Linked DNA regions of Homo sapiens: region 2 is linked to region 1. A link means that fine-mapping ties the variant in region 1 to the expression of a gene that starts in the linked region. Tissue or cell type: pancreatic islets. Region 1 holds a variant in brackets; the other region holds the start of a gene. All regions are shown on one strand. Distances are between the middles of the regions.

Region 1 (8,000 bases):
GCATGGTCTTGGCAGTGCCTTGGGAGTCAAAGGAGATTACCCATTTCTCCATACTAATCACAGGCTCATGGAGTTGCTCTGGAATTTGGCATTTCCAGTGTGTTTTGCTCTAGGCCCTTCCCCTGTGGTCTTCATTTTATGCCAAGTTTCATCTCCTACCATTATGACCAAAAGTGTAAATAAAAACGTATAGTTGCTCACCAGTTCCTAAAGAGACCCCTTTGCAGAGGTGTCTGAGATTTTTATTTCTCAGATCAGGGCCTAAGCTATGAAGGAAGTGAGTGGGAAGAGCCCCTATGTTAGAGACAAGGTGACAAAATAGCTGGCGAAGCTATTACCAGAGTAATTGGACCCGCAGGCTGGGTAGATTTGTGTTTGGTTGCTTTTTAGTTGTGACCTGGCATAGAAGGCAGTTCAGCACCTTGCTCAGAGCTGATACTCAGTGAAGATGTGTTGAACTGAGACCAGGGCAGCAGAATTGGCAAGATCATGTGCTCCCAGGGCATAAACCTACTTCAGGGTTGTATGTTTGTGTCTCCCCCAATGGTGGTGAAGCTGCTGTACTGTCATTGAACTGTGTATGGAGTAGGCACTTAATGGCTTCTAAAGTGGGCCTGGGGCCTGATGGTGTTCTGACTGCCTTCTATAGGAAGTGTAGGCTCCTAGGCTTTTTGACTGGACTGGCCTGAAAGTGGCAAGGTGGGAGGCAGGCTCCTATGGAACAAGATGGGACTGGTCCTGTCCTGGGAGGCTTGGTGCAAAGGACAATGGAAGCCAGCGTCTGGGAGGCCAGTGACTTATTGAATGATGTACACCAATAAGACCAGACAGAGGTACAGGAAGAATCTTCTCCAAGAGTCCTCACTGGTGCAGAGTGCTTTAGCACAGATGACTCCAGATGCCATTGCCTTTGAGCTGTCCTTGAGCTCATCTCGGGAACTCCTTTAGGAGGACTCTGAGTCTTAGGTATGAAGCTCTGTTTTTGTTCATTCAATGCAGGGAGATGGAAAAAAAGAGGAAACATGGGAACGATGGAGATGGGAGGGAAAGGGGAAGTAAGAGGAGAGAGCAAAAGGGGCAAAGAGGGGAGCAGAGAGATGGGGAGAGAGAGAGAAAGGTGGAGGGAAAGCAAGGGGAAGAGAAGAGATGAGAAGGGGATCTGATGACACCCTAGGGCAGCTATAGAGTCAGGGGAGGTCCAGGCTATGGAGGTTTCTGTACCCATGTCTCCCTTTGCTTTCTTAGTTTTGTTCAGCCTGAGCCTCATCCCAAGATCCAGGGTCCTGTGCCATGGATTATACCACCCATGTGTGTCTACACCCAGAGCCCGTATTGCCACTGAGGAGACAGACATATGCCATTTTTCAAAGTAGGAGCTCCTTAGGGTAGGGGGCAATGATCTAACATGAACATAAAATCCCACATACAGAATCCACACAAGCCTCTCAAATTTGTCACCACTGGGGCAAATTCAACAAGCATTCACTGTGTAAGCTGCCATGTGTAGTGCTGGGAGGAAAGCCAGAGTTCCTCCCTCAAGGAACTTATGATTTAGTGGTGGTGGGGTAGTGTGCCCTTGTGTAAGCAAGAGAAATACATAGGTGTAGTGCAAGTGTGAACATTCTTTGTGTCTAATGATGGACTCCATGCTATAAGTACTCAGTGTTTACCAAGAAGAAAGATGCATATAGTTACCTCTAGGTTTGTTAACAGCTAGATCTAAGACAGGGAAGAGAGGATGTTTGCATTTGGGATCCCTGCTCTGCACTGAATGCTGCCCAAACTACTTCTGTGCTCACCAGGAGAGGACCATTAAAGGCAAAGGGAAGAAATACATCTGGGCTTGCTGGTCTAAGCTGAGAATTTCAGGGCTGACATCTGAAGGCAGAGCCAAGAAAAACTTCTAAGCAGTGAAAAACGCCAAACCCTGGGCTTGAGCTTCAGGGAGACTGAGGGGCAATTTAAATCTCTTTTCTGGTGGAGTAGAGGATCCTTTTATGGTTGGGATGGCTCGTGTTATCCTTCAAGGAGGCAGAGGTATGATGGTATGTCAGGTTCCTCCTGGGCCTGATTCTTTCTTTGAAATTTGCTTCTTCTATCCCTGAGGCACTTTGGAGTTGAGACTGAATAATAACCAGCCACACAAACCTGGGTTCTACCACAGAGTTCATCGTTAACAAACCGCGTGCCCTTGGGCTGGTAACTTCTTTCTCAGTTAAAGTACCCATCTGTTGACTTAGGAGCCAGAGGGTGTGTGAGTGTCTGTAGACACCTGGTGGCAGTTTGGAGGAATTACGTTCAGTATCATCAGGGAGCAAATCCCTGTGCATGCTGTTCAGGAGTGTCCCAAGTGCCCAAAAGAGCTTCCTGGGTTTGGAAGCTGAACTAGTCAATCTGATATCAGTTTGAGGAGCTCATCCTGGGAAAAGAGTCCTGTTTTTAAAGTCATGTTTGTCCAGAAATTCGTCCTTGTTACTGGCCCAAATGTTTACATTTGATTTAATTTTACCATTCCCACGGCCTCTGCAATCAATTTCCTTTCTTGGTTCTATAGATTTTATTCTAGAGGCAAAGTCCTGGGGGATTTAGGAGTAACACAGTGTCTTACACACAATAGAAGTTTTATGGTGCTTACCAAGTGTCTTTCAAGTTCTTACTATTATCCCCATCTTGTAGATGGAAAAATTAGGGCACAGAGAGGTTAAACAACCTACCCAAGGCCACACAGCTAGTCAGGGACATCAGCAGGATTTGCACCCAGACAATTTAACTCCATAATCTCTACTTTTAACTTTCTTAACAACTGTTGACGGATGAACAGACGGGTGTAATTTGAGAGGCCCTGAAAAAGGTCTTACTCCAAAATATACTTTCCACTGAGGTAGTATAGTTATATAATGTCTACCATAAAGCACTGCCCTTTTTCTGTTTCTTATAGTGCTTTTTAAAGTATAAATAGCCTATGAAGGGTTATATTAGCCCTTTAGTGTGAATTTATTCATTAGATGTTTTATATTGTCTTGTTTAATAAGTGCTAGAAAGGGCTAGAAGGAATTACTGTGTTCTGCAAAGGGATCTCAGTAAACGGAACTGTTTTATTTCTTTGCCCTTGTTCTGAACTGTACTGAAAAATAGAAAGAAAATGTGGTGCTCAAAATGTCATCTTTTTTATTGATAGTGATTAAGTAAGACATTAGTAGCGCTAGGTCTGCTAGCTGGGGCTTGCTCATACTAGAACTGAGAATTAGGCTAACTTACCCACCTAATCATGACAGGCCTGGGCATCCTTGCCTAAGAGTAAGTCCCTATTATGCCATAGGGATCTCTGCAGTTCCCAAGTAGAAGCAGAGTAGAGCTAAGCCAATTATTCTTACAAAATTTACCAACCAGTTAAGTCCTTCTACCATCTCAGGGGCAAGGAGAAGAAAGGAGTGAAAAGAGGCCAGGAGTGGGGAAAAGGCGCTCACCTCTAGTAGAGACCTTAGACATCACCTAATCAAGCCTTCTCATCATACAGATACAATGGAATTCCAGAGAAGGGAAGGGACTTTGATAAACTAAGGTTGCGAGCTGTGAAGGGGTTGAGTCACGACACTGGATATGCTGATTTGGCTGCCAAGCTCCTTCAACATTCCACCACAATGCCCTTTTCCAGGAAGAGTGAGCAGTGGGAGTGCTTTAGAACCTGGCATCCAAGGGACCTGGTGGGAAGGGGGAGTGAAGAAGTAAAGCTACAGCAATATGCCCAGTGAATAGGTCCTAGGGTGAGCCCTCAGCACTTTGGATACTGGAGTCAAGCCCTCTTTCTT[C/T]TGCTGTCCTCCTTGAAGCTCCACTCAGTGTCAGAGAGGGAAGACTATTTAAGATCACCCACCATATTAGTAGGATTTCTCAGAAACAGAACCAACAGCATGTGTATTTATAGAAAGAGATTTATTACAAGGAATTGGCTGATGTGAATATGGAAGCTGGAGAGTCTAAAATCTGCAGTGTAGGACAGCAGGCTAGAAACTTGGGAGAGCTGATTATACACAATCCTAAGGCAGTCTGCTGGAGAATTTTCTCTTGCTCAGGGATGCTAGTCTTTTTGTTCTATTCAGGCCTTGAACTGATTGGATGAGGCCCACCCCATTAGGGAGGGCAATCTGCTTTACCCAAAGTTTACTGATTTAAATGTTAATCCCATCTAAAAATATCCTCTGAAATGTGAAAGGGAAGTTCACTATGCCAAAAGAAAAAAATTAAGCAGAAGGTAAGTCATGCAAGCAACGGCCTTTCCTTTTGTTCCTAGGCCCATAGCTACTGATAAAAGATTAAATATCTCCACTCTATGTTCACCCTACCTTGTGTAAAGCACCGATTTACTGAGCATGAGACGGAAACATAATTGACTATTCCCTTACCTTCTTCTCCTTTTATCTTGCAATATGTGGATTTAGTAATGTGACCCTACCCTCCCTATTTCTTCTCCACCCTGCTTTCACCCTTTAAATATTGAAGTCCTAAAAAATTATCATTGGGGAAAGCACAGACCTGTTTCTGGAGTGGTCCTTAACCTTGGCAAAATAAACTTCTAAGGTGATTTGAGACCCGTCTCAGATAATTTTTGGTTTACAAAATTCACACATAAAATTAACTACCACACCCGTTTTTTCCCTTGATTGACTCTGTGAGACTGAGTTTTCTCCTTTAGTCATCTGAGTACCACCTTCAAGATTTTTGCAATATCTGTGTATATATAATAATAATATTCTTATTTATTTATTTAGAGACAGAGTCTCGCTCTGTTGCCCAGGCTAGAGTGCAGTGGCGCGATCTCGGCTCACTGCAACCTCTGCCTCCAAGGTTCAGGAGATTCTCCTGCCTCAGCCTCCTTAGTAGCTGGGATTACAGGTGCGTGCCACTATGCCCGGCTAATTTTTGTATTTTTGGTAGAGACGGGGTTTCACCATGTTGGCCAGGCTGGTCTTGAACTGCTGACCTCATGTGATCCACCCACCTCGGCCTCCCAAAGTGCTGGGATTAGAGGCATGAGCCACAATGCCCGGCCTAATATTTTTGAACCAATGTTAACTACTCACTTAAGAATTTAGCCTTACACTAATATTTGAGATAACCGGTTTGTTGGGCTGGTTTTAGTATTTTCTAACACAAATAAGAATAAATACTCAAACATTCTTAAAAAGTGCATGTAGCACTTAAGACTATCTTGGTACTCCATTTGGGAAACCATGTAGCCAAGGCTGTTGGGGCGAACCAAGGTGGTGGGAGTCCGACGGGCCAGCAGGGGGCGCACTTGCAGGTCACCTGAAGTCCTTATTTACGGGATAAGGTGGAGGCTGAGGAAAGTCTTTCAGAGGCCGGACGCTGGCACTGGACGGAGTAGGGAACCCTAGCCGTTATCCCACCAAAGGGTCCCAGCGCCTAGAGGGGCTGCGGAAAGCTCCTACAATACGAGGAGCCCTTGGAGCCCAGAGCGGGATCCTGCGAGCCGAGGCCCCGTTCTCTGTTAGGATCACGGGGACTGCCCCAGGCAGCTGCTGGGCCCGGTCGCGGACCTCGGCCAGAACATCCTCCCAGAACACAGAGGAATCTGACATCAGTGGCCTCCCTTGGTAGAGGTGGGGAGCCGAGGGGCGGCAGTGTGGAAGGGCCATCGGCCTAGGTCTTTCGTATCCCCTCCGGCCTCTCGGGGCTGTGCGTTCGGAAACAGCGAAAGGAACGGCCTCAGGAATCTGGCCTCAGCCGGAGCACTGGTGAACACAGGCTCCCGTCGCGCCAAGGGAAGTAGGAAAAGCTGCTTCCGGGCGGAGGGGCTGCACTTCCGGGGCCCGCGTCCCCCGGCGGCTTCGCCGAGAAGGGGCTTTGGGAGCTTAAGGGCGCCGGCACGCGTTCCCCTGGCGCAGAGCTCGCTAGCCGGGGCGCGGGCTGCCTCCTTGTTCTGGTGTGATCCGAATGTAACGGAGCGGACTTTGGGATCCAGAACCCCGGACTGAGGTTGTGCTTGGCTTGAGGGGCGGGCTGGTAGGTCAGCCCCCTTGGGGCGTCGTTGGTCCTCTCCAGGCGTGTCACATTCTGCCCGCACATGGTGCCTTGGTACTCCCCAAAAGTCATGCCTTGATTTTTCTTACTAATAATAGTTTACACTGTTTTACCGCTTCACTGCTTCACGTAAGTAAAGTAATTATTTCAAAAGGAAATGTTGGTCATTTATAAAATGGTGGTAAAGATGGTACAGCGGATTAATGTGAGGATTAAATGAGATGATACATGAAAGTGCTTAAAACAGTACAGGGTACTTACCGTTATTATTGTTAAGTAGAAAGTGAGTTCTGGGAAACAGTGGGTGTATGGTCCTTCACAGCAGGTTTTGGAAACGTCTGATTTCCAGCCTACCCTCCTTCCTCCTGTTGCCGTCTGTTGCCTGATTGTTCTCACTGGCTGAAAGGAGATAATCCCTGCCACTCCATTCATCACTGAAAATTCTTGTCAGTTTGGTTGCTTAGGTACCTACTAAGAGTTGCCAGCAGGTGGCCCCAGAGCACGCGGTTATGTTTGTCTTTTTGGGTCCCATGTTTAATTAGTAATTTAGTAGGGACGTATTGAATACTTATTCCACACTATGGTACACTGTACCAGGGGATATAGGGATGCCTGAGGGTGTGGGAGGCCGACCCTGGTCTCAGGGAGAATATAAATGATTTATTATTCTGGTCTTTCACAAGATTTTGGCCTTTTTAAAGATCGATTCATGTATTCATTCAACAAATATTTATTGGATGTTTACTCTGTTCCAGTTTCCACTCAGAGATGTGAAGTATATCAATGAATAGAATAGACAAAGATCTTTGCCTTCATAGAGATCACATTCTAGCACACAACAATAAAGATAATAAATTATGTAAAATGTTAGAAGTGTTATGAAAAAGAAAAAATGTAGACCAGTGTTTGTGTGTGTGGGTAGGGTTGGTGGGATGGGCAGGTTGCAGTATGAAATAGAGTGGTTAGTATTAAATAGGCTTCATTAGGAAGGCAAGATTGAGCAAAGATTCAAAAGATGTGAGGAAATTAGTCAGATCTGGCGGGAAGTGTGTTCTAGATATGAAAAAATTGGAGTTATTACATTTACTCCTTTAAAGATGAGGTAATTGAGGTTCAGATAAGTAAAGTAACTTGTTTAGGGTCTCATAAGAGGTTTCTAACAAAACTGGTCTGGTTTCATGTCCTCATTTCCAGTCGTGTTCATTCACCAGATCACATTACCACTTGGTGTTTTTAGGGTGATGGAGACTTCACAATACATAACTTGCTTAAATCATGACTAAGGTTATCTTGGCATACTTCCCATCATTGGGTAATACCAAATTCTCTGTGATCTTTCTTTTTTTACATAATCAGTAAATATTTATTTTGCTAACTGGTGTGGAGGATAGAAATGAGGCATAAAGCCTGTCTCCTGCCCGTAAGGGACAAATAATCTATACATAACCATTTTGGCCTTCATCTCTTTTTCATCTACTTTCCCCATTTCCCCCAAGACAAGCCCACTGATAATCTGTACCTACAGCTTAGAATTAGGTCAGGTCCTTAAACTTGGTCACCCATTCTTGGTTTGTAGGTTCCAGAATTTCACTGGATTCCTTTTGCTGACAGTTGTTGTGCCTCTGGTTATCCCCCAAGTCTCTACTCCCTTTATCCTGTGTTGAACTTGTCTATGAGACTGAGCTTATGCTATGCTTTTCACTCCTCAATTAGATATCCCATCTGGATCCTTAGTTCCCCTCTAGAACTGCCTCCTTGTCTCTTGTAGTCTCAGTTGTTGATCTTTCCACTTGAGTGGAGACTTTGCATTGCTCCTATTTGGGAGTTGTGCCCCTTGTTCGCTGTGCTTGCTCCCCTTGAGCTGCCTCTCTGAGCCTGAGTCAGTTCTCTTCACCTCTGGCCCAGGGAACTCTGGACATGTGCCACACCCCTTTCCCTTCATGCCTACACTTGCTGGGAGG
Region 2 (8,000 bases), 37 kb after region 1:
ATATGGGCCACTGCTGGAAGATCGACCAAAGCCAGTCCCATGTTGGCCGGAGCTGGGAGACTGCCCTGACCCAGACCCACGCTGGCCGTGGCCTGGAGACTGGCCAGATCCAGAGCTGTGTTGGCCGCGGCCTGAAGAGTGACGGGAGGCAGACTCATGCTGACCATAGCTGGAAGACTGACGTGAGCTGGAGCCATGTTGGCCAGAGCTTGATGCCTGCCCTGACGTAGATCCATGTTGTCCCTGGCTAGAGGAGTGACCTGAGCCAGAACCATGCTTACTATAGCCAGAGGACTGTCCTGAGCCAGACTCATGTTGCCCAAAGCCAGAAGTCTGGCCTGAGCCAGACTCATAATGGCCACGGCTGTAAGAGTAACTTGAGCCAGACCCGTGTTGGCCGTGGCTGGAGGAGTGCCCCGAACCGGACCCATGTCGGACGTGGCTAGGAGACTGGCGAGATCCAGACCCTTGTCGGCCGTGGCCCAAAGACTGACGGGAACCAGACCCATGCTGACCATAGCTGGAAGACGAACCTGAGCTAGATCTGTGTCGTTCACCCCTAGATGACTGTCCTGACCTAGAGCCGTGTTGTCCGTAGCCAGAGGAGTGACCTGAGCCAGATCCATGCTGACTGTAACCAGAGGACTGCCCTGAGCTAGACTTGTGTTGACTAAAGCCAGAAGACTGGCCTGAGCCAGACCCATGTGTGTCATTGCTGGAAGACTGTCCGGAGCCAGAGCCGTGTTGGCCATAGTTGGGAGACTGCCCTGACCCAGACCCACATTGGCCGCGGCCTGAAGACTGATGGGAGTCGGAGTTTTGCTCACCATAGCTGGAAGACTGACCTGAGTAGGAGTTATGTTGGCCAGAAAAGTCTCTTTGAAAACTCAGTCTTCTGGATATGGATTCAGTCCCAGGTTTAAGACTTCCTCTGACGTTTCTGGAATAGGAATCATTCTCTCCTGCACTCCAACTTGAATGACTAAAAGAGGATTCTTGCCGTTTGTTCTCCTCTTTTTCAGTTTCTTCTTGTTCCTCTTGGTGCTGGTGAGTGTCATCTCTCAGCTTTGACCCTGAAACTTGGCAGTAATCTTTGCCAATGATTTTATTACGAGCCTGAACCAGCTTGAATATCATCAGAAGATACTCAGTAAAATCCACTTTCTTGTTATGGTCTCGATCCAGACTTTGCAAGATGATATCCACAGTATCTGGATCGTTTGGATTCTGTATAAGAGAAAGGTACAAAGAGTAGCTCTGTTAGTATGGACAATACATCTGGCTAACGAACTGAAGGAAAGATGTGAAAATGTAAATGTTTGGGTTATTTATATGGAACTCATTCACACAGTCCTTTAGGCTGCATTTCTGTATCCTGAGCAGAAAGAGAAAAAGGAATATGGAATGAATAATGTGGTGGGAAACAGCTAGAATAGGATGCAACTGGAAGATGAAAGGAAACAAGAGGGCTGATTATTTTTGGTAAAGAATGGGTCAAATATGAATGATTAGCTAATTTATAAGTAATATGTTTTTATACCTACATTAATTATATCAACTTTATTTATCCAATTAAATTAACTAGCTACTTAATTTACTCACTGAACAAAGATTTATTATTTTACTAGTTGCCTACCATTATGTCATATGAGAGTATAAAGAAGTGAACAAGTTTGCTTCCTGAAAAAAAATGGAATTTAAAGTTTAGTTGGCCAGATATACAAACTTAAAATTATAATTTATTGTGGTAAGGTTTCTACAAGAGTACATCAGAGAGGAAACATTGGGGGTCCTAGAAAGGTTAATGAGAGGAAATGATGCCTTTTGAAGGATGGATTAGGATTAGCCAAATGAAGAAGTAGGAAGAGAAAGAGAAGGGGAAAAGATTGTTCTAGGCAGAGGGAATTATATGAACAAAGGGCTAGAGGTGAGAGAAGTTATGGAGCATTCAAGGAACTGAAGGAAATTCAGGATTGCTAGATTTAGAGTTTGAAGAGTCAAGAAATGTGGATAGAGAGACAAATAGGGACTAGATTATGACTTTTAAGTTATGTTAAGGAACTTTGTACTTCATTTTAAGAGCAATTGGGAACTATTGAAGGATTTTTAGCTGAGGAGTGAAATGATTATATTTGCATCCAATGCTGAGAGTAGAAGTAGTAGGTGGCCTGAACCAGAGGACTAATAATAGTGATGAAGAGAAATGGGTTGTTTTGAGAGATTATTGATGAGTTAGATGGAGGTTAGAAGGTAGTGGTGTCTGCTGAGAGAGAGACAATAAAAAATGACACCAGGTTTTTGCTTTGGGCAAAAAGATGAAGGAAAAAGGTTAGTGGGGAAGATTATGAGATTCATAGCTGACACACTGAATATCTGACATCTGATATCTGAATATCATATCTGAAATCCACAGAAATCCAAATTTAAGGAATTGAAACTCAGGAGTCTGATATAAGGTCCCAAATATCTAAGCTATCAAATCTAGACCTGACAGTTTTAAGGTGGTGGACACATTCTTTTGTGATTCAGGAGTAAATGCCAATTTCCTGAACTCAGAAATCTACTTCACAGTTTTTCTGAGGACTGTCTGGGTTTGTAGGAATTAGTCACTTAGATAGGACATTATTTAACCTGTGGGTTTTGTTTGTTGTTTAGTAAGGTCACTTCCGTTAGTTATGCTATGGAAACCATCACGGATCTGCTTTTGACCTTATCTCAAACTTTTACCAAACCCTGTTCTCTCTCACCAAGTAAGGACAATCCTCTAGGATGTTTGACATATGTGACAAGAAGGTGGAAAGGGATAAAGAAGAAAATTCCTGCATAACTCCATCCTGGCGTGGAGTTCTTACCTTCAGAATTTGATGAAACTCATTTTCCAGAAGTTCTTTCAGCTCTGCCTTGTTCAACGTATCATACTCCCCATGCTGGGTGGCATATTGGTAGAAAACATCGATGACAGTGATGACGCCTTGTAGGAGTTTAGGCATTTTTTTTTTTGCAAGTTTGAGTAACCTAAAGGGAGGAAAAAGAGAGACCAACCCCTTACTATTCTTATTTCTTGTTTAAACACATAAATAGTTCTAATTATTTATAATAATTGTTCAGAATTAGTCAGTCATGATTAAATTCATTCTGTTGTAATCAAGAACCAATTCAGAGTTGAATGACTTGTTCAAGCCATGTAGCAAGAGAGTGATGAAATTAGGAATATAATCCATAGGTCTTATTTCCATTCCTGAATGAATGTAGGAAAAATGACTTTCTGTTTTTGGCTTCCTGCCATTACCAGGGATAATATTAGCTTTGTTCTGGAGCTGTAGAAGTCCTGAGTGTTCCACTTCATCTGCTTCCTCTTTCTAGGTTCGAAGCATACTGTGGGCATAGGTCCATCATCTACATGACATGCCTTACTCAACCTAAGGAGCATCAATGGCTGAACTGAACTCTCAAGACTTCTAGGTCAGAGAAAATAGACAATGTGAGCAAAGCCAACAAGCCTAGGTGATATGAAGCTAAGGGTAACTGCTATTAGATCCAGCTTCTGTTCTCATTCTCCAAGCAGGAAGTGACCCTCAGACCTTATTACACAATAGAGAGGAAAAGCTCAGTTGTAAAGAAGGCAACCTGCCTGTGGATAATTAGAACCCCATGATATCCATGTTATAAGGGAAGCGACCTCAAAGAAAGGAGATAATATACATAGTCCTAGTCTTTGTTTCATTTTTCTTTTCAGTAAATTTAAACTTATACCAAAGTTCCCCAGAGTATACTAAAAAGAAGCCTTGTATCTAGTGCCTCTTTGCCTTAGAGCACATCCTGGACTTTCATAATTTATAGCCCTAAGTACCCTTGAGCGGAGTTGAACTGCTCACTTACCTAGCTCACCAGAGGAACAAGTAGGGTAGAGACAGAAACAGCTTTCAGGGTGCTGCGAGTTGGGCAGAGTGGCCTTTTTATAGAGGGAATAATGGTCCCTCTTAGGGAGGAGTTGCTAATTTTGAGATGTCCTAATTTACTCCTAAACAAGCCCATCTCCACCTCTATCTCCACCTCCCAGGTGTTTACCTTCTTCCTGACTTCCTTACAGGTTCACCTAAGATTGCATTAGCAGTTCCCAAATCTGGGCTACTCTCAGCCCCACCTGCCAAAGGGTCAGGACACTGCAGAAAGGCCTGTTTTTGTATTCATCAAACTATCTAGCACAATATATTGACAACAAATTGTGTGGATTTTAATAGAAGTTGAATGGAGTGTGTGCAGGGACATCATGGCCCAAATGTCAAAAAATCATGGAAATTGATGATTAAAAGGACTGTAAAGATCATCTAGTCAAACTCTCCCATTCTAAGCTAAATGTTCTTAAATGGTATTCCAGCCAAAGTGTCATCTTTGGTATTGTTATTACCTTTTGAATTGGATAATGGCTCCAGGCCATCCTTTAACTCATTAAGTACCTCAATTTACCAGACCCCTTATTGGCCATTCATCACCATAGCTTTCATTTCAAACACCATATAACCTTAGGAAGAAATGCGTGCTTGTTAGCATGGTATCCATGGTTCCTCATGATCTGGGCTGTGGCTTTTTTCCAGCTCCATTTCTCCCCTCCATATTTCTCTTTGTACTCCAACAGTAATTAACTAGTAATATTTCAAACTTCCTCAATATACCATGGGATATGTTATTTCATATTTTTTCTTAGAATGTCTTTCCTCATTGTCTGCCTAGTGAACTAATTATTCTTCAAAATCCAATTTAGGCTTCCCATAGAAAATCTTTCCTGAATTACTCAAGAGGGAGTTGTAATTGTGTACCTTATTCATATTTATTGTTGTATCAATCATACTATATTGTAATCTTTAAAAATTGTTTTACTATACAATTATTGTTTAATATAAAAATTAGAAAATATTGATAAGCAAATAAGATAAAATCAAAATACCTTTAAAGCCACTAGCCAAAAATAACTACTGTTAGTTATTTGTTGTATATCCTTGCCTTTCACAAACACACACATTCACACACAGACACACACATTTGTCTATGGGCTTATTTCATTTCTAGGCTATGAGCTCCTTGAGAATAAGGAATGGACATTATTTATCCTTATGTCATTTGGAGACCTAGTATACTGCTTGTCACATAACGGTCTCCAATAAATGTCAGTTTGAATTCATTTGAAAGAGAAGCAAGGATCAAGACTATAGTCCTCTGCATTGGCCAACTTCCATCTTTTCACAGGAGGACTAGGGTCTGCCCTCTCTCTTGCCATCTTTGCCTCAGAGGACATGATTTTACCTGAATATAAACGGAATCTTAGCATTGAGAATCAATGAGTGGCTTTCTGCTTTTTTCTGAGGCCCTCGCTCTGCATTTCTTCCATTGTGAACATATAACACAAATTTCACTGAAGGTGTGTGAAGTTACATGGACTTAAAACTTGTGCAATATGGTCATCAGGATTTGAGAAGGTGTGGTAGCAACTGTTGGCAAGTGATAAATTACATGATTCCAAATTCAACTATTGTTAGGCTATGTGTTTTCTTTTAAGAATTGCCCAGAGGGCTGCAGAGTCAGTATCCATTCTGTAGCCGTGTTTCCTCTGGACATCTGATTGGGCCAGGTTTTCATGCTTCATCAGAACAATGACTTTTTAAAGGTGTGGCTGAGACTGTGGGAGTAAAGGGGGGTGGAATTTGCTGAGTGAAGACTGATTTCCTGCAGGAACCAGCTGTTGTCACGAAGGGAGGAGAGGGTTGTGAGAGAAGACTATTCCAGGTGAACGTGCTCTTGGGGCTAGTGTTCTCCTGAAATAGGGGCCAGCAAACTTTTTTTTTTGTAAAGGGCCAGATGGTACAAAATATTATCTCTGCAGGACAGATAGTTTTTGTTGCAACTACTCAACTCTGCTATTGTAGCATAAAAGCAGCCATAGATGATATGTAAACAAATGAGCATGGCTATGTTTCAGTAAAACTTATTTATCAATACTGATCTTTGAATGTCATATAATTTCACATATCATATATTTTTTCAACCGCTTACAAATGTAGAAAACCTTTTTATCCTGTAGGCTACACAAAAATGGATGACAAGCTAGCTATGAACTGCAGGCTGTAGTTTACCACTCTTTGCTCCTCTTCTGTATTTGCTTTTCAGGAAGATTCTCTGGGAGAGGAGGATCTGAGAGAAAAGAAGGGCTGAAAAGTGTGGGACATCAGAACCACTAACTCTTGCATGAGAGAACAAGAGTGAAGGTGAATTTGTAAATATCAGCATGTGTGGGGTGGTGGGGAAAGGGAACAGAACAAGGGACCTTTGGCTGCTCGTAAAAGGGAGATAAATTTTGATTTGATGTAAGGGAGAAATATTTAATATTTGCATTGACTGAAAATGCAGTGAGCTCTTTGTGAAGTAACTGAATTTATTGTCAAGTATCATATGAATAGTTTTTTACTATTAAAGAAAAAATTAATTCTTTCATTACGTTGTTTTCTGGATATGCTCACCAACTAGAATTTTGTTGGGCTTTTTTTCCTCGTTTGTATCATGAAAATAAGAAGCATATTACATATGCGTCTTGGTCTCTTCTCTCCCCATTGAGAATTACTTATTAAGAGTAGGACTAGATTATCACAAAAGTCACTTTCAAAACAGTTTCTTGTTTTTTTTAGAGTGTGTGCTCCATAGTAACAGAGTTGGACATGAAGATTCCTCCATCATGGGTTTGGTTAGTGGTTTTTCCACTTGGAGATGATAGGTTTCAGGAGAAAAGCTTTTCTATGGTATGTGCCATGTTCTAGGTTTTTGAGTGCCTTTCTCTGTGTGTTGGCAGAAGAATGAAAATTACATTCCTTTTTATGACAAGCACAGTGCTTTGTGTGTGGGTGTACATTGTTTCATTAATTCTTACAACAACCCTGTTATCTAGATATTATATTTCCATTTTGCAGATGAGAAAACTGAGGCTCAGATGAAATCTGTAACTTGTTTCAAGTCACTTAGCTGTTAAGTGGAGAAGACAGAATTCAAATTCAAATCTGCTTTTTCCTAGGAATAGTCAGCAAGTAGGGAAATATTCATGTCTTGGTAAAGGAAGGGTTTTGGAAACAGTTCTTCAGGAATGGAGTGTTTCACCTAGGAAAAACAAACAAACAAAACTAGCAAGGATAAACAGTGAAGTTCCAGTACCATCTGTGTGCACTCATTTTTTTCTGCCTGTCTGGAAGGCAGAGTAATGTGCCTATTGCACCATCTGCTGGGTCATAGGGAAATTCTAAAGCAGATCTTTTCTTCATTGCCTTTTCTGCCCTTTTTCCTTACAGAAATTATTTCATGGAATTTCTATAGTTCTTTGTAGCCTAGTCTCTATAAATGAGGAGACTATGTAAAAAATAGGGGTATGTATATAAGAGAAGGTTGATGGTCATGATTTTGGGTAAATGGAATCAAAAGAAGTTAGCTATAATATGAAACTGGTTAAATAGTGCTTCCTTCTATATCCTCTTTTGAGTCCTTTTTACTGTTATCTCAAAAAATAAAAAATGGATTCGATATAATTTTACAGCTTAGTATATATTCCCTGGGGATGAGACAGGCATGGTGACATATCTTTCAGCTTCAGACCCACACCCTGGAATATATTCTGCTTCAGTACTGGTCTGCCTATTGAGTTGTTTCTTTCTCCCTTAATATCCTCCATTTTCTCTTCCGAGAACTCCAAAATGCTTCAAATGCTGGGAATCCAGAGCTCATTCATACATGTATCCTTTTATTTATTCCATCAGTATCTTTCTCTAATATATATATATATATATATATATATATATATATATATATGAGAAAAAAATATATATATAGTTTTTTTTTTTGGGTCTCACTGTTGCCCAGGCTAAAGTGCAGTGGTGCAACCATGGCTCACTGCAGCTTCCAACTCCAGGGCCCAAGTGATCCTCCCACTTTAGCTTCCCGAGTAGCTGAGATTATAGGTGTATGCC

Alleles and levels. Positions count from the first base shown, and alleles are read on the strand shown. Sizes are in standard deviations (SD) of each study's normalised expression.
For the expression in pancreatic islets of the gene that starts at base 3,930 in region 2, allele C in region 1 goes with a higher level than allele T (moderate effect, 0.60 SD a copy in van de Bunt 2015).

The links. PIP is the estimated chance that this variant, and not a neighbour inherited with it, causes the effect.
Region 2: HRNR starts here. The variant in region 1 is fine-mapped to the expression of HRNR in pancreatic islets (van de Bunt 2015, PIP 0.95).

Annotation. Positions count from the first base shown.
Region 1 is chr1:152,183,488-152,191,487 of GRCh38, forward strand. CCDST (cervical cancer associated DHX9 suppressive transcript) reads left to right here and starts at 5,816. Exons shown (of 8, transcript NR_186765.1): 1 at 5,816-5,994. The variant C/T (reference allele first, on the strand shown) is at 3,810.
Region 2 is chr1:152,220,264-152,228,263 of GRCh38, forward strand. It overlaps HRNR (hornerin), which reads right to left and starts at 3,930. Exons shown (of 3, transcript NM_001009931.3): 1 at 3,880-3,930; 2 at 2,853-3,015; 3 at 1-1,227. The coding sequence starts at 2,990. All of the region lies in intron 1 of CCDST (cervical cancer associated DHX9 suppressive transcript), which reads left to right.